Linked DNA regions of Homo sapiens: region 1 is linked to region 2. The links come from fine-mapping of genetic effects on plasma protein levels. A gene starts in region 2. The other region holds a variant in brackets. All regions are shown on one strand. Distances are from middle to middle.

Region 1 (10,239 bases), 30 kb after region 2:
ACTCCTGGCCTCAAGCAATCCTCCCGCCCCAGCCTCTCAAGGTGCTGGGATTCCAGATGTGAGCAACCACTGGCCTGGATAATTCAGATGTGTCTTCCTACAGTGCCCATGGCTTCATGGACATCAGTGAATGTACAGAGAATATCTGGACTTGAAGTGGAGAGGGAAAATAAGGGGCCCCATCCATTATACCTACCCTCTCATTCCCTGCATTCTATCTCTTATCCAATTATTTCTTTTCCTTCACAATAACTAGTTCATTTCACTTTCCAAGCCCCAGTTCCAACATAAAACACAACATTATAAAATCACAAAATACTTAAAAAGCATAAGAATGAACTTGCTTCTCTAATACTGCTGAGGCAGGCATGGAGGAAGCTGTAACCAGTTAAGGGCCTTGCCTGGTTTATGCTTCTGAGCCCCAGCATCTTGAAGACGCTTCATTTGGCTGTCTAAGCAGGTACAATCCACTTTATACACTAAGAAAATGCCTCCTTGGGGGTCCAACCACACCATAGCTACATGACTCAGATTTAATACGATTGTTCTAATTTCAGCTATATTACTTATTGTCTCTCCAACCATTGACATATTCCAGAAATTCGAATAGCTATGAAGCCAAACTATGCCTTTCAGATCTCTCATGCCTGGAAATAGCTCTCATGACCATTGTTGAACTACATTTCCAGTTTCTGGAAAAGATGGTTCCTATAACTAGGGACCATATTTCAGAACAGTGAAGCAGAATTTCATGCAAGGAATGTGTGAAACTAAAAGTATCTGAGACAGGTCTTAATCAATTAAAAAAGTTTATTTTGCCAAAGTTAAGGATGTGCCCATGACACAGCCTCCAGAGGTCTTGACGGTATGTGCCCAAGGTGGTTAGGGTACAGCTTGCTTTGATACATTTTAGGAAGACATAAGACATCAATCAGTACATGTAAGCTTTACATTGGTTCAACCTGGAAAGGTGGGACAACTTGAAGTGGGGGTTGGGGGGCTTCAAGGTCACAGGTAGATTTAAAAATTTTCTGACTCGCAAATGGTTGAAAGAGTTACTATCAATAGAAAGGAATTTCTAGGTTATGATAAGAGCTTGTGGAGACCAAGATTTTATCACGCAGATGAAGCCTCCAAGTAGGCTTCAGAGAGAATACATTGTAAGTGTTTCTTATCGGATAAAGCCTGTGTTGATTGTAATGCTGGTGGGCTTTTCTTGAATTCTAAAAGAGAGGAGGATATAATGGGGCATGTCTGACCCCCTCTGCTTCCTATCACGGCCTGAACTACTTTTGCTGATTAACTTTGGAATGCCCTTGGCCAAGAGGAGGGGTCCATTCAGGTGGTTGGGGGGCTCAGAATTTTATTTTTGGTTTACAAATGCCACTTTGGCACTGATCAGGACATCCCCAGCCTAGGTATATTTTGATTCTGATGGCAGCCCATGGAAACTTTTTCTGGTGGAATGTGGTTGGCTTCCATGAAGTAGTAGAAAAATTGCCTAGATGGCAAAGGACCAAGACCCTAGTCATTCCTGCCTCTTTTCCCATAGGGCCCTGGTTTCTGCTGCCACAACTTGGTCTTTCCTGGGTTTCTCAGGAAGAAACCTGAGACTTGAAGTGACCACTTGGAACTGTTGTATTTGACTGAAATATGAGAAAATGTCTCTGCCCTTGGTTTGGGTAAGATATGCCTAAAAGATGGAAGAAACTAAGAAACATTATAAATATAAAACTAACGGTGCTAGTTATTTATCCTAACTTCTTAAGTCTAAGTCAAGATCTGACTTAGCTGTGGCAGCATTAGAGGTACCAGCATTTGTTCCTTTTCTTACCTCTGGGTTAGCAAGAAGCAAAGCTAATTAGTTTCTAGACTAAGGGAAAACTGGCTGGGCATTGCTTCCAGGCCTAGGAGGATTCTCAGTCCCTAACAGAATCTGCCTCTAAGTGTCTCTGGATGAAACATTCTTCTCCTAACTCTATCCTTCACCCCTTTGGCCTTGAAACACAACACGCTTGGTATCCACAGTCACCCTGGCTCTTGCTGTGGTCCTTAGCCTCTGAGTAGCAGGAAAGGGAGCCAACATCTTTAGTGCCTTTGCTCCATGCCAGGCACTATCCTCCCAACGCTACATACACACATCATGAAGAAGGGCACCAAGTGAAGAAAGGAGCTTCCTCCCTGGACTTTAAATATTCTTCCCTGAAGCTCAGAAATATGCTGTAAGTATTAAAAAGATGGTAGTACTGCCCACTGACACCCCTACCAGCCAGCATAGAATTCAAAGTATAAAGAACACTGAACTATAAAAATACACACAAGGTAAAAAAAATTGCTTAAAGTCACTTCTTTCTAGTTTTCCTGATTATAAATTTCTAGATAAGTTCATTGAAGCTTAACTTTTCCCTCTGGTCACTTTTTGTGTGTGTGTTGGTCAGGGATGGCAGAGACAGGTTGCCACTCCTGCTTGGCTAATGCTGGAAGGACAAGCTCAGTCAGCCTCGCAGATAGCCCAGTGCTGCCCAGACTTCAGGTGACTCTGGACTGGCCTAACAAATGCCTTCCATATCTTAAGGTTCTTGATAGCTTGGACTGCTGCACAGCAAAGCTGGGGCAGGGGGAGTACCAGAAGGCAACAACCTCACTTGGTCTTGGTGCTGGGTAAAGAAAAAAATATATATTCCCTGAAACTGTGTATATATAAGACAGTCATCATGCAGATTTGAGGCCTGAATTCATAACATCTCCATTTCCCAAAACCTCTGAAACCAAGATTTCATTTTAAAGGGCTCCTACTTGGCAGTGAGTCCCCAGCTTGAATGGCCCCTTAGCTTTGTCTCTGGTGTTTGGTATGGCTCTGAAGACAGAAGCTTTTGGTCCCTGGAATGCATAGCCATTGCGCCCAGCACTCTCTTACTGATCTGGACTCATGTGCTGGTTTCATTTTTAGCCTCTGCAAATCTCCCTCATTTTTCTTGCTGGCAAAAATGAAGTACCCAAAAATGTGTGTGTGGTTTTGTCTTTTATTTTTTTCTTTTTATTCAGCATTTCAAGTATTTTTATCAAGGATTTTTTTAAAGGCTATTTAGTATGCACTATTCTGGAAATTTAACTCTTCATTCCCTACAATGTCCTTTCTCTTTTAGAGAAACACTTCTATTTTGCCCCTTGTTTGTGGAGAGAAATGTCCAAGAGGACTCAAGTTTAACAAGTATTCAAGCACAGCTATTATGAATCTCTAGGTCCCCTTCTTAGCCACAGCCAACCAGGTCTTCCATGTACAACCCTCCAAGGCATTTTGTTACAATTTATAGCATCAGCAAGATTTCTGATACCACAATTTTTTAAAAGACTGTTTAAAGAGAAAGATAAATGATCATTTCTCCCATAAATGGTTTCTCAAAAGTTAAGAATGTGTTAGTTTCTCTCAGTAGCACAGCATGGATATTTATTTATTCATTAATTCAACATATTTTAAAGACTATGTGCTAGACGCTCCAAGGGAAGCAGTCTGTAAGGTGGGGCATTTATTCAACAAGCATTTGGTAAGTTCCTTGCATGTTCCAAGAACTTGAAAAATAATAGGAACGAAGGCATGGAGGCAAGAAGCAGCCTGGCGTAGTCAGGGACCCAGAGTGGTTTAGAATGGATGGAGTGTGGAGGTGACGGGAGATGGGAGAAAGTAGTCACAGGTTTATATAAAATCTTCTTGAGCTTATATTTTTATTCAAACTTTCAGGTTTAGTATGCTTTCTTCGCTTTCTATGCTTAAATCAATACTTTATATTTTAATCTTATTCTTTTTCTTTAAAAAATGGTATCAGAATGTATAGAAGGCTTAGAAAATAAAACAGACATCTTGTGATTCATAAGAGCTCCGTAGCCCATCTCCAGGTCAGTGTCAGGCCCTGGGCTTCAGTGGGTCAGAATGGCAACCAAAGGTGGGGTAGGTACAGGACACAGCACATAGCATCAGGTTGGGAGTCTCTACCAGGGGAATGTTGAAATCTATAGAAGAAAACTAAGACTGGTGCCCTGGAAGTCAGGCTGGACCAGAGAGAAAAGACCAAGTAACAGAATCTGAAATCACGAGGCAGGCCCTGTGTTGAAGGCAGCTCCAGGGAGTAAGAAAACTACAGATTCCAGGCTGGAAGGCCTGGGAAGCTTCCTTTGTGTCTGCTACAGATGGTCAGGACCACAGAAGGGTTCTACATAAGGTTGCCTCCACCCTAGGACAGGGAGTGTCTCCCTGCCTTGGGTTTCAGAATGCCCCTTGACATAGGCAGGCAAGGGTTGTTATGGTACCAGAGCAGCCGCAGGGGCTGCAGCCGGGAAATTGCTCAGGCAAGCCAGGCCCTCAAGGGGTGGGTCTGGCAGCCTGATTTTCATACCTAAATTCTCACAAGCTCTACATAGCTACACCTACAGAACTGGGGCCCAGTCTAAAATATGAGAATGTAGGTCCCAGCAGGCGAGGATTTGCATTGGAACTCCTGGTAGATCTTTTGGAAGACTGAACAATACATCCTCTACTTACTTCTAGGATACAGTGGTCTGCTTTTCACTGGGAGGACTTTCTGCCATTATAAAATAAAGATAGTGGATGACAGAAGACTTGGAGTGTACAAATATGACATTGTACATAGAGAAATCAGACTGCCTAAGACAGGTGTATGGGCTTTCGTAGAGAGAAGCTCTGAGGGCAATAGACGTACTTGTTTCCAGCTTTATTAATGAATAAACAGTGCACTGATCCCAGGGCTAGGCTTTCCGAGAAGCAGCCAGCCCAAGTGCTTCTCTGAATCTCTTCAGTGACAGGCACAGGTTTCCTGAAGGCAAGAAAAGGAATGAAATTCAAAACAGTCACGGTGGCTTTAGGGTGTTGCAAAGGTAATCTAGATTACAGCTCACTCTCCCTGTCAGGCCATCCATCTGCCTGAGGCCCAGATCACGGTGACTGATGACCAGGGTGACTGATGACCACGCTGACTGATGACCACACTGACTGATGACCTCGCTGAAATGCACGTCCCTCACAGGGAGCCTGCCCTGTTCTTCCTCTCAGCTCTTTTGGGGCCTAGTTCCCCCTCCCAGCTCCTGTCTCAAACCTTAGTGCCACTCAAGCACTTCCTCCTCTTGTCTTCACACATGTTCAGCCTCCTGAGGTTCACCTGCCTTCCCACTCCCTTAAATCCATTTAAAAAAGAGAAGGGAGGGCACGTTCTGGGCTGGCCCTCAGGAAGGAGCCTGAGGCAGGTCAGAGCTGAGCTAGGCTCTGGATGGGCCTGCTTCTCATTACCTGGGAAGAGGTGGAAGGGTGTTCTAAGCAGAGAGCAACTGGGCAGTGAACAGTCTGATGAGAATACAGGGATTCCTAAAGGGAGAAGGGTTAGAAAAATAGCTCGGTGCATTTAAAGGTGGTCTTAAATTCTAGGATCAGTTTCAACTTTCCTTTTTCTTTTCCATGACCACCAGTCAAGAACAGTTTGAACTTTCATAAGCAATCAGGAGTTACTTAAATTTGGGAATAGTGAAAAGTAAAAATAAGCATTTACTTTTTTTTTTTTTTTGTAAAGACAGGGTCTCACTATGTTGCCCAGGCTAGTTTCCAACTCCTGGCCTCGAGCAATTCTCCCACCTTGGCCTCCCAAAGTGTTAGGACTACAGGCATGAACCACCACTCCTAGCCAAGAATTAACATTTATAGTTTTAAAATAACAGCTAATATTTACATTTTGTAAGGAAGAGTTTGTTTCTTTGGACCCTCACGATAGCCCTGTGGAAAAAGTCGTGTTGAATCTGGAGGCAGGTATAGGATGAATTGCAGTGTTGCCCAACTGTTCATGTCTCCTGCTCCTGTGGAGCCCCCATTAGGAAATGCCGGGTTCTCTGTAGAGTGGATAAGGGGAGGAATAGCAGCAGCTTCTTTTTGTTGCATCCATTCCAGAAATGATCAGGCTGTCCCTGAGCAGTGCTCCTGCCCTTATCTATGGCTGGGCTGGAGGAGGAGAGGTGAGCAGAAGTGGAGAGAGGCGGGGAGAGCAAGGGGATGCCAAGATTATGGTGGGGAGGAGTTGGTGAATGGACAGCAGCCAGGACAACAGCCAACCATGAAAAGAAGTGTTCATTAGCAGCCAG[A/T]TCCCACCCAGGTGCTGTGAGCACCCCTGCAATCTCTCTTAACCTCCACTTTGGAAGACAGACAATTAGGCTGTTTTTGTTCACATGGCAGAGACTGCTTATGGGATACTCAGCTTTTCTAACAGTACAGGCCCTTTGTGGGAGGGTCATGAAAGGTTTGGAGTGTGTTTGTTATTCAGTACAATGGGATCAGTTATGCTGCTGAAGGAATCTTGTGGAAATGTTTTTTTCTCTGCAGTGAGAATAAGGAGGAGCAGGAAACACAGGTATGATTACGAAAAGGACTGGTAATCAACCTTACATTGCCTTTTGTCTCGCTCTGCTTGTACCAGTGAAAAATAGTGTGCACAAGGATGATGAAGAAATGCTAATACATGCTTATGGCAATCAGGGTGATGCTATAAATAGGACAGGCTTAAGAATAATATAGAATGGCTTTGCTGCAAACTCAAATACGGTTTAAGGAAAGGTGTCTATTTGTTAACAGTGTGAAATTTTCCACCTGATACTCATGCCCCCTCCAGTTTTCCTTCCAGAGTCCCAAATGAAAGACACTTCCTGGGGGGGAGAGAAATTTTTTTCAATCTATGTAAGATTGTATGTGCTGTCCTTCCATCAGTTACAACTGTACAAACACAAGCCTAGCCACTGATTCGAATCCCAAGATTTACAAGTCTTTTGATTAATATAAAATATGGGATAATGGTTAAGACCAACGATGATGGCATCTGAGACCTGAGTCTAATCCTGCTCTCTTTAATTTCCCAGGACTGAGTCCTCAGGGGAATTACTTAACATTAGGCCTCAGCTTCCTCATCTATAAAACAAAGATAATAGTATCTATCTCCGTAGGTCGTCATAGGGATTAGATTAGATCGATGAGGCAGTGTACTCAGATAAATATTAGCTATCATTCTTATATGATTAACAAAGGTTTTAGGAGGCATGTGCAGACAAAGCCAAGGCCAGAGCAAATCCCAGGGAATATCAAATTACAGAATCATGTAACTAATTATTTGAAAGGGCCTTTCAAAATTGTTTGAAGCTTTATCTGGTACTAGAAACTTTTCCCACCCCCTGTGTGTTTACCCAGGCCCTGCTTGCACATGCATTTGCAGGCCAGTCTCCGCGAGCTCTGTTGGAAAGTTTCTCCAAAGTATTTTGAGTCTAAATCTAATCTCCTAGAACTTTCACTCAGTGCCTCTGTTTCTTCCTCCAGAGTGATGGAGAACAGGCCAAACACCACCTTTCAAATACTGAAATGATATCACTATATTTAGTCTTCTTCAAATTAAACCACCCTAGTTCCCTCAACTATTTTTCAAAAAACATGATTTCCAGTCATATCACCGCCCTGATTTCCCTTCTTCTAAATCAGTGGTTCTCAGCTGGGGTGACACGTCTGGAAACATTTTTGGTCGACACAGCAAGGGTAGTGTCAGTACTGGTATCTGGAAGTTACAGGCCAGGAATGCTGCTAAACATGCTACAGTGCACAGGATGACCCCCAATAACAAAGAATTATCTAGCACAAATAGTTCGTAGTACGGAGTTTGAGAAACCCTGTTCTAAGTATGCATGTTAATCAGTGTTCTTTTTAAAGTGTGGGCCAAAAATGTGCATGGATGAGTGTCAGCTAACATTGCTATTGTACCGCCACTACATTGCTATTAAATTAGCCTGAGATTCCCGTGGTTTTGTAGCTAGCAGTGAATTAAAGCCTCCTTTCATGTGTTTCTGCTAACCCAGGGATGGAATACACAGGGCCCACGTGCTCACTTAGAAAACATTCATAAGGCTGGGTGTGGTGGCTCATGCCTATAATCCTAATACTCTAGAGGCCAAGGTGGGAGGATTGCTTGATGCCAGGAGTTTGAGACCAGCTTGGGCCACATAGTGAAACCCTGTCTCTACATGAAATAAAATTAGCTGAGCGTCGTGGCACATGTATGTAGTCCCAGCTACTCAAGAGGCTAAAGCGAGAGGATTGCTTGAGCCTAGGAGTTCAAGGCTACAGTGAGATATGACTGTGCAACTGCACTGCAGTCAGGGGAATAGAGCCGGGCCCTGTCTCTAAAAAAAAAAAAAAAAAAAAAACGAAAGAAAGAAAAGAAAACACTGAAGGCCAGGTGCGGTGCAGTGGCTCACGCCTGCAATCCCAGCACTTTGGGAGGCCGAGGTGGGCGGATCACTTGAGGTCAGGAATTTGAGACCAGACTGGCCAACATAGTGAAATCCCATCTCTACTAAAAATACAAAAAATTAGCCAGGCATGGTGGCACATGCCTGTAATCCCAGCTACTCAGGAGGCTAAGGCAGGAGAATTGCTTGAACTCAGGAGGTGGAGGTTGCAGTGAGCCAAGATCACGACACTGCACTCCAGCCTGGGTCACAGAGAGAGACTCCATCTCAAAAAAAAAAAAAAAGAAAAAAAAGAAAGAAAGAACAAAAACACTCAGCCAGGTGTGCCTGTAATCCCCACACTTTTGGAGACCAAAATGGGAGGATCACTTGAGGCTAGGAGTTTGAGACCAGCCTGGGCAACATAGTGAGAACTTGTCTCTACAAATTTTTTGTTTTTTAATTAGCTGGGTGGTGTGCACCTGTAGTCCCAGCTACTTGGGGGAGGTGTGGTGGAAGGATTGCTTGAGTGTGGGAGGCCAAGGCTGCAGTGACCCACCATCGCACCACTGCACTCCAGCATGGGCAACAAAATGAGGCTGTCGCCACCCCCAACCTACCCCGCCAAAAAAAAAAAAAAAAAGAAAAGAAAACACTCATTAGTGGTGGCACTCTTCCCTGTGAGCACAGAGGCAATCTTGCAGTCTTTTTCAACACAATATTCTAAGCCACCACTACCAGTCATTCAAATGATTGTTGGCATACAAGATGAAATCTTTCTGCCAGCCATATTACCCTAGTTTTACAGTGTTGGGACCCAGGTCATGATTTAATTCTGGGTCCTGTGCTTTGGAAGAATCCACTAAACTGTGCTGTGATTCTTGGGGGTAGCTAGAAAGAAAAGAGGATGCTTCAACCTGATACTCAACAGCAGCCAAGTCTCTTATATGCAATTCCCCAAAATTCCTTTCCCAAATACAAAGCCTGGCCATCTGCTGCCATGTTGATGGAGCAGGGGCTGCCCAGAAAGGATGTCCTGTCTCTTCCACACACACCCCTCAAGCCCCACATAATGACTCCTCCTCATTGCAAAGTTCTCCTCAAGCCTGCACTCACCATTCCTGATGCTTCTGCTCTCGGTTTCCTGGACCAAAGCCAGCCTTGACTTTACCAGTATAAAGAGATACAGGGAGAGGGGTAGAGGCCAGGAAACATACTCTACACCTTGAATTCTTCAGCAAAGCAAAAACTGGAGTAGACAACAATCTAAGCTTCTCAGAAACCTGAAACCTATGCTAATCAATATCTAGGAAATGGTTAGTTTTACCTTGAAGCCCAATGCTTTATTCCACATAGCATTTAAAATAATTCCTTTTCCCCTTTATAGGAAATACTTTTTCCCCATAAAGAAATTTCCTTTCCCGCTTTTAATCTTCTTTTTCCTTTTTTGTTTTTTTGGTTTTTTTGAAATGGAGTCTTGCTCTGTTGCCCAGGCTGGAGTGCAATGGCACGATCTCGGCTCACAGCAGCCTTCGCCTCCTGGGTTCAAACGATTATCCTGCCTCAGCCTCCCGAGTAGCTGGGACTACGCATGCACACCACCACGCTCGGCTAATTTTTGCATTTTTAGTAGAGACGGGCTTTCACCATGTTGGCCAGGCTGGTCTCAAATTCCTGACCTCAAGTGCTCTGCCCTCCTGGGCCTCCCAAAGTGCTGGGATTACAAGCATGAGCCACCACACTCAGCCTTAATCTCCTCTTTGGATAGGCTGAAGTAAATGTCTTTAATTTCAGCATTCTTTATAAACCTAGTCACCTCGTTGGTTTGTGAACAATGTAATATGTTTGCTGCAACTTGATTTACTCAAATATCCTCCTTGGTATATTCAAATAAATCACACATTTGCAAAACTAATCTAGTTTTCAGGGTTTTAAACATTTATCAATCACACGAGTGGAGCTAAACTAATGATCTATAAG
Region 2 (10,239 bases):
GCTCGTTAATATTTCACCAGATGTCAGCATCCCTTTCAATTAGCCGTTTGAAGTTTGCTATATTAAGACTACAAGGTCTGCTCTTCCCAGCTCTGCAAAATATTATAAGATCTCTTCTCCTTTAGCAGGATTCCAAATTCCTGCTAATGACAAGGTGTTTATCAGAATTGAGACTACCTTTGCAGAAATTATAACAGTGAGAAAATTATGGCAGTTGGGGAGATCTGATCTAGCCAACTCATTTCTGGCCTTTAGCCTTCAAGCTATACTTAATTATTACTGGGCTTGGGCCAAGCTAATTTTGGGAGACATTTAGTTTATAGTTTAAGTGAGAATAGCCCTTCCGCCAAACTTAACTGCCTTTGTAAAGCTAATGAGAGACCACCAGGCTAGGAGGATAGGGGAGCCTGAATTCTGCTAAGGTGTAGACATAAACAATTGCCAGCCATTACTCCAGAAGTCACAATGACACAGGATTTTTCTTGATCACTCTGCCAGTTGGAGAGCTCCTGCCAGCAATGCCCCTGCCCAGGCCTTGTTCAGGCCCAACCCTTTGATTGTCAGCATGACCTCATTTTTTTTGGACATGGGACTGGTGAAGGGCAGCTGCCCCATGCAACGGAAAGCAGTGGTGGTGCCAAGTTTGCCCCAGAGCTGCTGGCGAGAGTGGGGCAAGGAAATGACAGAGCTGTTAACATGCCACTGTCCACTAGGCAGCAGAAGCCGGGACTATAAGAGCTAATTAGCATGCTGTAACACCCCCTCTGGGGCTTTGGGGTCATGGACACCCCTGCCTAGGTGCCACTGCATTCCCCTTGTCTGGATGCCAGAGACCACCAGGGGAGTGGCTTGCAACATGCCTGGTCCAGTCGCAAGCACAGCACAGAGCCTGCTTCTGTGCCAGCACTTGGAACAACCGGCTAGGTCCACATTCACTCATGGGCGGGTGCTCTTCCTATCAGAGCCAGAATGTGCTGTGATTCCAAGGAAATGTAAGCCTTATACGCAGGAAAATATGCAGCTACACAATGAGAAAACAGAGCTCCAGGTGACTGGGCTATTTAAATAATTTTTTAAAAAAATTCATAGGCCGGGCGTGGTGGCTCACGCCTGTAATCCCAGCAGTTTGGGAGGCCGAGGCGGGCGGATCACGAGGTCAGGAGATCGAGACCATCCCGGCTAAAACGGTGAAACCCCGTCTCTACTAAAAATACAAAAAAATTAGCCGGGCGTAGTGGCGGGCGCCTGTAGTCCCAGCTACTTGGGAGGCTGAGGCAGGAGAATGGCGTGAACCCGGGAGGCGGAGCTTGCAGTGAGCCGAGATCCCGCCACTGCACTCCAGCCTGGGCGACAGAGTGAGACTCCGTCTCAAAAAAAAAAAAAAAAAAAAAAAAATTCATAAGACATTTTGGTTCCAGATACATTAAGTAATCTCTGTCTCTCTCTTTCCCCAAGATCAACAAGGAGAGAATAGATTTTGTGCTTATCTCCTACGTCTGCTTTACCTTTGTCCTAATCATAAATTGTTCCTCTATCTCAAATGCAACTTGTTCTCTGCTGCCTCTAATAGTGTCAATCCAGCTCAGAAGACATCTCCTCTGGAAAATGACTGATCACACCCCAAGTTGATCCCTGCTTACTCATCCATCAAATGTTACTGAGTGCTTTTTATGCCTGGCACGGTGCTAGGACCTGATAACAAAAAAAGATGAACGAGGCCTAGTTTTTACCCTCCAAGAGCTCACAGACTAGCAATGAGATAGATGCATAAATGGAAAATAGTACCATTACTGTGTGCTGTGAAAGAAAAATGTACATTTATCCAACAAACATCTAATGATTGCTTACTCTGTGCATGCCTTATGCTGGTGTGAAATACAAAAATGAATAAGACACCTTTCTATTTCTAAGGTGTGTCTAGTGAAGGAGACAGACAATTCAATGGTCCCAATTTAGGAGCATAGTAAGTAGCACCAGGTTCACATGGGATCCCGAAGCATGGCACCTGCCAGATGGTAGTTGTTGGGAAAGTTTCCCATAAATTTTATATAAAACAAGAAAAAGGCAGGGATGGATTCCAGGTAGAAAGAGCAACTTGTGTAAAGGCAGGATGGCTTGGGAGAGCACGCTGGCATTTTAGAGCAACCTGAAGCAGTGCAGTACGGCTGGTCCACAGAGGACCAAAAGGAGACATGAGGGAAAAATCTGGAGAGGTAGGCAGAGGCCAGACCACAGGCTCTGGAGAGGCATTGGTCATTTCAAGCAGGCAAGTGCCTCATCAGATTTGCATTTTAGAAAGATCATTCTAGTGGAAGTGGGTGGATCAGCACAAGTAGAGGCAGACTAGGAAAAGGACACTATTTAATAGTTTAATTCAAATTGGAAATGATGAGGGAGGAAATCTGGGCAATAGTATTGGGGATAGAGAGAAGGGATGGACTTAGGAGGCATAGAGGAGTTTTACGGGCTGAATTATGTCTCTCCTCAAAATTCATAAAGTCCTAACCCCCTGTATTTGGTGATAAGGCCTCCAAAGAAGTAATTAAGTTAAAATGAGGTCATCAGGATGGGCCCTAATCCAATATGACTGGTGTTCTTATAAGAAGAGGAGATTAGGGCTGGCACTATAATCCCAGCACTTTGGGGGGCCGAGGCGGGTGGATCACCTGAGGTCAGGAGTTCGAGACCAGCCTGGCCAACGTGGTGAAACCCTATCTCTACTAAAAATACAAAAAATTAGCTGGGCATGTTAGTGGGCACCTGTAATCCCAGCTACTTGGGAGGCTGAGGCAGGAGAATTGCTTGAACCTGGGAGGTGGAGGTTGCAGTGAGCCGAGATCGCGCCATTGCACTCCAGCCTGGGCGGCAAGAGTGAAACTCCGTCTCAAAAAAAAAGAAGAAGAGATCAGGACAAACACACACAGAGGGAAGGCCACGTGAAGACACAGGGAGAAGAAACCATCTACAAGCCAAGGAGAGAGGCCTCAGGAGAAACTAACTCCGCTGACACCTTGATCTCAGCCTTGCAGCCTCCAGAATTGTGAGAAAATACATTTCCATTGTTTCAACCACCAGTCTATGGTACTTTTTTATGGCAGCCTTAGTAGACTAACCCAAGGAGGAGGAATCAGGGATGTAGGGAGCCAGGCAGGCGGAATAAAGGGTGACTTTGAGGTTTCTGACTGTGGCAGCCTAGTGTGGGATGCTGTTGTGTTCCAAAAGATGTGACCTAGGGGGAGCAGCCGGGTTAGAGATGGGAGATGGTGCCTTCTAGACAGCCGATTGGAGATGTCCACTAAGCAGCTGGGTATGTGGGGTTGGGGCTTGGTCAAGGGAAGGGAGCTGAGGATGCAGATATTGTGATCTCCAGAGCAGTCGAAGCAGAGCAGTGGTCAAGGTTGCCCAGGGCACATGTGTGCTATGAGAAGAAAAGGCAGAGGACAGGACCACAGGGACCCCTATCACTTATGGGAGAGGCGAAGGAAAAGGGCCTGGGCACAAGACAGTGAGGGGCATTAGTGAGAGTCTCAGAGAACAGTGTCAGGGGAGCCAAGAGAGGCTTTCAAATGCTGGAGAGTTCAATGTTTCCAAGACTCTCTCTTTACACGTGCACGCGCGTGCACATGCGCACACACACACTTTTGGGCTGTTGCTTTGTAATGATTTCCCTCATTATTTTGTGTGTGATATTCTTCAAGTTTTGGAGTCAGAACCAGAGTACTGTCCATTTGCTTCTCCAGAGGCAGCAGAATGCTTTTCAGCTCCACATCCCTGCCAGGTAATGCCTGCCCTCTAACAGGTGGGCCACTTCAGCTACATTTTCCCTCTCACTCGGAGGTGTCTCTGCTGGGTTGTCTTGATTTTCCCTCCAGGGTCATCCTTAGCTGTCCCTTTAGTGATGATGCATGGCTAGAAGAGAGAAACTCCATGGCTCTGCCCCAGGGTGTTTGAGGTGGGGCTGCTTTTTTGTTTTTTTTTTAAGACAGCATCTTGCTTTGTTGCCCATCGTGGAGTATACTGGCACGATCATGGCTCACTGCAGCTTCAAGCCCCACTCAAGTGATCCTCCCACCCCAGCCTCCTGAGCAGCTGGGACTATATGCCCAGCTAATTTTTTGTTTGTTTTCCTGTTACTAGATGGATTCTTTTTTTTTTTTTTTAAATTTTGTAGAGACGAAGTCTCAGTATGCTGCTCAGGCTAGTTTCGAACTGCTAGGCTCAAGAATTCCTCCTACCAGCCAGGCGCAGTGGCTCATGCCTGTAATTCCAGTACTTGGGGAAGTCGAGGTGGGTGGATCACTTGAGGTTGGGAGTTCGAGACCAGCTTGGCCAATATGGAGAAACCCCGTCTCTACTAAAAATACAAAAATTAGCTGAGTGCGGTGGTGCACCTATAATCCCATCTACTTGGGATGCTGAGGCAGGAGAATCGCTTGAACCCAGGAGGCAGAGGTTACAGTTACAGAGCCAAGATTGTACCATTGCACTCCAGCCTGGACAACAGAGCGAGACTCAGTCTCAAAAAAAAAAAATTCCTCCTACCTTGGCCTCCCAAAATATTGGGATTATAAGCTTGAGCCACTGTGCCCAGCTGAAGCTGCTCTTCTTAAGGCTCATTGAGGGGTAGGGCAGAATCCCTGTGCCTTTGGTTGGAATTACAGAAACCACTGCTCCCACTGCCCTCAGCTTCCCCAGACCCGGGAAGTGACCATTCAGCACTGGCACTGCATAGATTCCAGGGCATCACCCTTTACTTATTCTGGGGAAGGGAAAGCACATAGACCCGCCTCTCATTTATCCCTCACTGCAACCCAGTGAGACACACATTGAAGTAAAGTGATGTTCTCAAAGCCACATGATTAATTAGGAACCCAGGAATTGAACCTAGCTGTTTGACTCTAAAGGTCTTTCCACTGTGACCTTGCCCTCTCCTGCTGCCTTATTTTCACCACTCAGTTCTCTCTGCTCCATCTTTACTCAATGGTTGCTCCACCTGCCCATACGCAAACACTAGGAGGATGCTGCTGAAGGCCTGGAGCACCTTCACTGCAAACATAGTCAGTCAGCAGCAGCAGTAAGCCAGGCAACCAGTCATGAAACTTTCCCATCCAAGGTACTTCTGGGGGCTGGAGGAAACAATAAGGAGAGAGAGAGAGAATAAGAGAGAGAGAGAGCAACGTTTAGGCTTTAACGAGAATCTTGCCTAGTTGGCAATCTGCTGGATGAAATGTCAGAGATTTTTGCTAACCCACTCACCTTTGACAGCAATAGCTTCTGAGTATTGGGATCTCCAGAGAGAGGGGCAGTTGAAGCAGAGCACATTCAGTGTCTTTTTGGAGTCTCAAAAAAATTGCAAGGTGGGAAGTGCTGGCCCTCTCCTGCTCCCACTGAAATGAAGCTGGAAGAGAATTGCACACCCAGCTGGGCATCTCAGGAGACCTAGGCAAGTTCAGTCTTGAGTGACAAACTCAGTGGTCTTGTCACTTCAGCTCATGGCCTTCCTGAGGTCCCCCAGCATGAGTCTCCTCCACGAGAGACCTGACCAATGGTGACCCAGCCTCTGTTTGAGCGTCATCTACCAGCAGAGATGGGGACTCCTGGCCCCAAGGCTCCCAGCATAGCCTGACACTTTGAGCTATTCCAGTCCTTTCTTATTTTGAGATTAAATCTCCCTCCCTACAGCTCCCTTCCACAGTCAGGAGGAAAGTCCTGCTGAATGCAGGCCCTGAAGCAAGGGCCAGGGAAGCTTTTCCTCGTCACCCTCCCAAAGTCAAGACTTGGAAAGGCAGCTCTGAGCCCCTGGCTTGGCTGGCTGGCCGGAGCAGGCAGCCACTGTGCCTGCAGGGAATTCTGCACAGCCAGTTTCCTCATACCTGAGCCGTCTACAGCTGCACGCACCACTCCCGGCCTCAACACACTATTTAAGGCCAATACACGGGAGCTGGTTGTGAGTCACCAAGGAAGGCAGCGGCAGCTCCACTCAGCCAGTACCCAGATACGCTGGGAACCTTCCCCAGCCATGGCTTCCCTGGGGCAGATCCTCTTCTGGAGGTAGTATATACTCTTCTCTCTATCCTTATGGGTGAAGGGAACAGCAGTGAGGTCTTTTGGGGATGCTGAGCACTGCTGGGCTGTCCCATAGGACCCCACCTGTAATTTTATCTGATCCAGCATTGGGCCAGCGGGAGCCTGGCCAGACAAGAGCCTAACTGGATTTGACTTAACATCCCACCTCAGCTGCTCAAGGCACCTGTTCAGGGTTAGGGAGGTTTTTGGTTGGTGGCCTGCCATGGAGGGCTGGCGCTTGCTGGGCAGCTTGGACTGAGGGGAGTACGTGCCAAGCTGGGCATTCCCCTGAGATGTCAAGGCTGTGAGCACCATGGGGACACTGAGCAGGCTGGTGTGGGTTGCATGGTGGGATGGCAGGGAATCCATGACTGCGACAGTGGAGGGGATGCAGGAGGACCCTTTATGCAGCCCCCAGGGGGACGGAGGAGAATGTGCTTTCATTCTCTGTGGGTGTGATTTCTTGCTACTCTTGAGCAATTCACACCAACACCCCTCCCCAGGCCCCCCCAGCTCAAAGGTTGGGTCCCTAGTTTTCCTAGGAGCTCCTTGGAGAGGAGAACTTGCTGCTGCTGCTGCTGCTGCTGCTGCTGCTGAACTCCCCAGAGAGGAAGAAGGAAGCAAGTTCCCTCCCCTACCTTTTGCTTCTCCCCTGAGCTACATTCTAGTTGCCTCTTTTTCCCTCAGAACAGCATTTACCCTCCTGGAAGGAAAGAGATGGAAAGTGCAGGGTTTTCTTGAAATGATTGATTCAGTGTCAGTCACAACTCAGGACAGTGTTTAGGGAGGCTGATACTTGTTGGTTCTAGAGGTTGTTTGAAGGACCAGTCCTCCAATTTGTTTCTTTTTCCCACAAAAGGAAGAAAAGAAGAGAGGGAAGGAGAGAGGAAAGGAATCCTCAGGTCAACAGTGAAAAGTTTGTGAAGAGACTACGAGAGTAATGTTACTTCCCAGAGGCAGCCTAGAAAGTTCTTTTCCTTGAAACAAAATATCAGCTCCCCTGACTCGACTCACGTTTATCTGAAATCACCTGCCGGGTAGCAGAGGTGAAGGACTCTGCAGGGCTGGTGGGGGTGGCTGCAGCGGCACTTCTGCCCCCACCCCTGTGCCTGGCTACAGCACTGTGCTCCAGGAGAAGCAGTGGGTGGCAGGGGCTTCCCTCTAGACCCTTCTGCCCTGAGAGGATGTCCCTAAGAAGCACCTATGTCAGAGGAGCTAGCATTTTGTGAGTGACTCCTTCCCTGCCCTGCACTAGGTGTCTTAGAGCAGCGTGTCCACCACTGCCTTGTGAAGACTCGTTATCACCTCAGAGAAGTTAAGGCCAGATGACTGTGAAACTGTGCATGAGGGGATCTTGCTCTGAAATCCCAAGCTCTCTCCCCCTGCCACCCTTGCCCCTGCTCCTGCCAGTCCCAGTTCTCCATGCCCACCATTCCTCCAGCCTTGATCCCAAGGACATGAAACACTCCTCCTGCAACAAGTGGCTCCATTGTTCAGAGGTCAGATGGGATGTGTGGGCTCTCTCGTAATGCTTTGCATCCAGTCTGACTGGTTTTGCTGGAGGATTAGCAGGAGGTGGGTGTTCAAAATTCGTATCCCCTACCCTTCAGAAACCCACTGGAATCAACAGAGACTCCTCTTGTTGGCTCCTGCATGCCTTGTTGGCTATTCATGCTCTGCAGTTTCAGAAGCAGCGACTGTCCATGAGGGTGGCAGATCCTTTGTGCAAGGGACCTCCAGGAAGAGGGCCAATGAGCAGCTTCAGTGGGGAGCAGGATCATGAAAGCTCATCTCAGGGATGCAGGTGGAGCCTGCCTGGGGTAACTCTTGACCCTAATAACCCTCTTCCTTTGTCATAATGGCCTTAATTCATAAAAATACCTCTCCTGGAGGTGATCATGACAGTGGTGATGTTGGAACGCTCATGAAAGGGCCTGCCATCCTCTGCAGACCCAGTGAGTTATTCTCCTAAGTATTCATAATTTCCAGAGAGCCTAATTCCTTCAGATCTCACTCTCAGCATGCATGCTGCTCAGGGATGGAATGCTGATGTGCAGATTTTACCGTGCCTGGCCTCTGTGCACATTTAGGAACTGTGTGACTAGAACCCTCCTCCCCTCTCCCCATCATGGCTGTTGACAGCAGCAGCATTCGCTCATGAAACATTTGCAGAATGCTTGCTAGGAGGACAGGGGTAGAAAACCCTTGCTCTGAGGGGGTTAAGTTCCAGTCAACAATATTAACTGAGCACTCACTGTGTCCTGAATATTGCACTAGACAATGGGGCAAAAGTGACTAAGATGCTGTCAAGGTCATAACCTAATGGAGGAGAAAGACTCCCACATAACAACTCTAACGCGCCACCCTTAAGTCCTCAGACAATAAGCACAGGTTGCAAGGGGAGCACTTCCCTCACCCAAGGCTTTTGGGGAGGGTTTCTGAGCCAGAGAATGGGTGGGCTGTGTCTTGAAAAATGAGTTCATATGACCCAGGTGAAGAAGGGTGGAAAAGGCTGTCTAGGTAGAGGAAACAGAATTAAATCAAATACAATAAAACTCATGAATGAGCATGGTGTGTTGGAAAGCTACACACTACTGTGTATTATCATCATAACATGAAGTTTGAGGCAGGAAATGCTGGGAGATGAGGCTGAGAGGTCACACCAGGTCACACTGGGCCTTCGATAGACTCAGAACTGGGATTTGTGGTGATGAGGAGCCCTTACAGGCACAGGCCATATTGGTGTCCAACTTTCAGCTTCCCTGAGCCTATAAAATCTGAGCCTTCAGAGCCTTCAGAGGGGGGTCAAGGTGGTTTTCGTCTCAGGTGGGCAGCAAGCCTGGAGGCCAGAAGAAGAGTTGGGAAACAGTTGTGGTCAGAGTATACAGGATGACAGGGACCTGGCATAGATGAGAGTGAGAGTAAAGAACTACAGGAGGAAAATGGATTCAGGAAACACTGGACTTAAAACTGGTGATATTTGATCAATGATTGGAGGGGCAGGTAGGATGCTGCAGAATAAGAGTAGGTGAGGCAAGGGGCAGATCCTGGAATGACTACCATGTTTCTGGATTGGGTGCAGTGAGTTGGGGACAAGGAAGAGAGAGGAGAGCTAGTTAATGTGTTGAGCTTGAGATTCCCCTGGGACCTTCAGATGGGGATGCTCCCTGGGCAGCAGAGGGCATGAGGCTAAAACTAGGAGAGGTCAGGCCTGGGGATAGACATCTAGTGTCAATAGCTCAAGGGCAAGGAATAGTCATAGGGGGTGGCTCCTACGGAGAGCATGTGGAGGGAGGGAAGCAAGGGGCCAGGACGGATGGCTGAAGAACACCAACATTCAAGGGTGGGCAGAGGAAGAGGGGGGTCAGGGAAAGAGCTGAGAATAAATGGCAAGACAGGTAGCAAGAGGCCAGGATAGAGATTAATGGATGTCAACAGAGCAGAGTTTCATGGAACACACAAGGCTAGTGATCCATAAACCTTTACCCTGTTTCATCTGAAATCACTAGTGACAATGGCATTGATAAAAACATGTCACAGGAAGGAAGCTACTGAGTAGAGAAGGAGCAGGGATCTTTCTACCATAGGAAGGTGGATGAAGTAGAGAATGAGGGATCCTGGGACAAGGAGGCTCAGGGAGTTTGCTTTGGAATTTTGGTTTCCCATTTCTCCTAAGTTTGCAAGCTGGTGCCTGGCTCAGACATCTCAGACCTTGAAGGTCAGAGAAAACAGTGCCTCGCAACACCATGGAAGCTTGTCTGGTAAGAAAATCTTGCTTGAGCCTGGGCTGAGGAGATCTCAGCACAGGCCGTATTTGTGTCCAACTTTCAGCTTCCCTGAGCCTATAAAATCTGAGCCTTCAGAACCTTCTGAGTCCATCCCGTGAACAGGACAGGAATCTGCAAAATGAGATAAATTGTACATTGGAAGAAAGACTTAAATAGGTGGCACCTGTGTTCCTGCTCCTATTGAGGGTAGATGATTTTCTGAGTGTTATGCTTTTCCCCCATCTCCACCTGTTGCAATGCTAGTCATTTCTTTCAATATTCAGCTCAAATGCCACCTCCACTTTGAAGTCTTACAGGATCTTTCTAGTTGCCATCAATTGCCCATCTTATGTTCATAGTCAGCATCAACAGATATGAATATCTGTTCCTGTGCCTGTTTCCCTCA

Alleles and levels. Alleles are on the strand shown, and positions count from the first base shown. The strength of an association depends on the size of the effect and on how common the allele is.
For the plasma level of the protein whose gene starts at base 5,948 in region 2, allele T in region 1 goes with a higher level than allele A (weak association).

What was found. PIP is the chance, under the fine-mapping model, that this variant and not a neighbour inherited with it causes the effect. The UK Biobank Pharma Proteomics Project read protein levels with antibody pairs (Olink). The fine-mapping took linkage between variants from a reference panel, not from the people measured, so its PIPs are less certain.
Region 1: its variant is fine-mapped to the plasma level of the VTCN1 protein (UK Biobank, PIP above 0.99).

Annotation. Positions count from the first base shown.
Region 1 is chr1:117,176,585-117,186,823 of GRCh38, reverse strand. All of the region lies in intron 1 of VTCN1 (V-set domain containing T cell activation inhibitor 1), which reads left to right. Among named protein-coding and RNA genes, the nearest start is that of VTCN1, 29 kb to the left of the region's middle. The variant A/T (reference allele first, on the strand shown) is at 6,139.
Region 2 is chr1:117,206,636-117,216,874 of GRCh38, reverse strand. It overlaps VTCN1 (V-set domain containing T cell activation inhibitor 1), which reads left to right and starts at 5,948. Exons shown (of 6, transcript NM_024626.4): 1 at 5,948-6,051. The coding sequence starts at 6,020.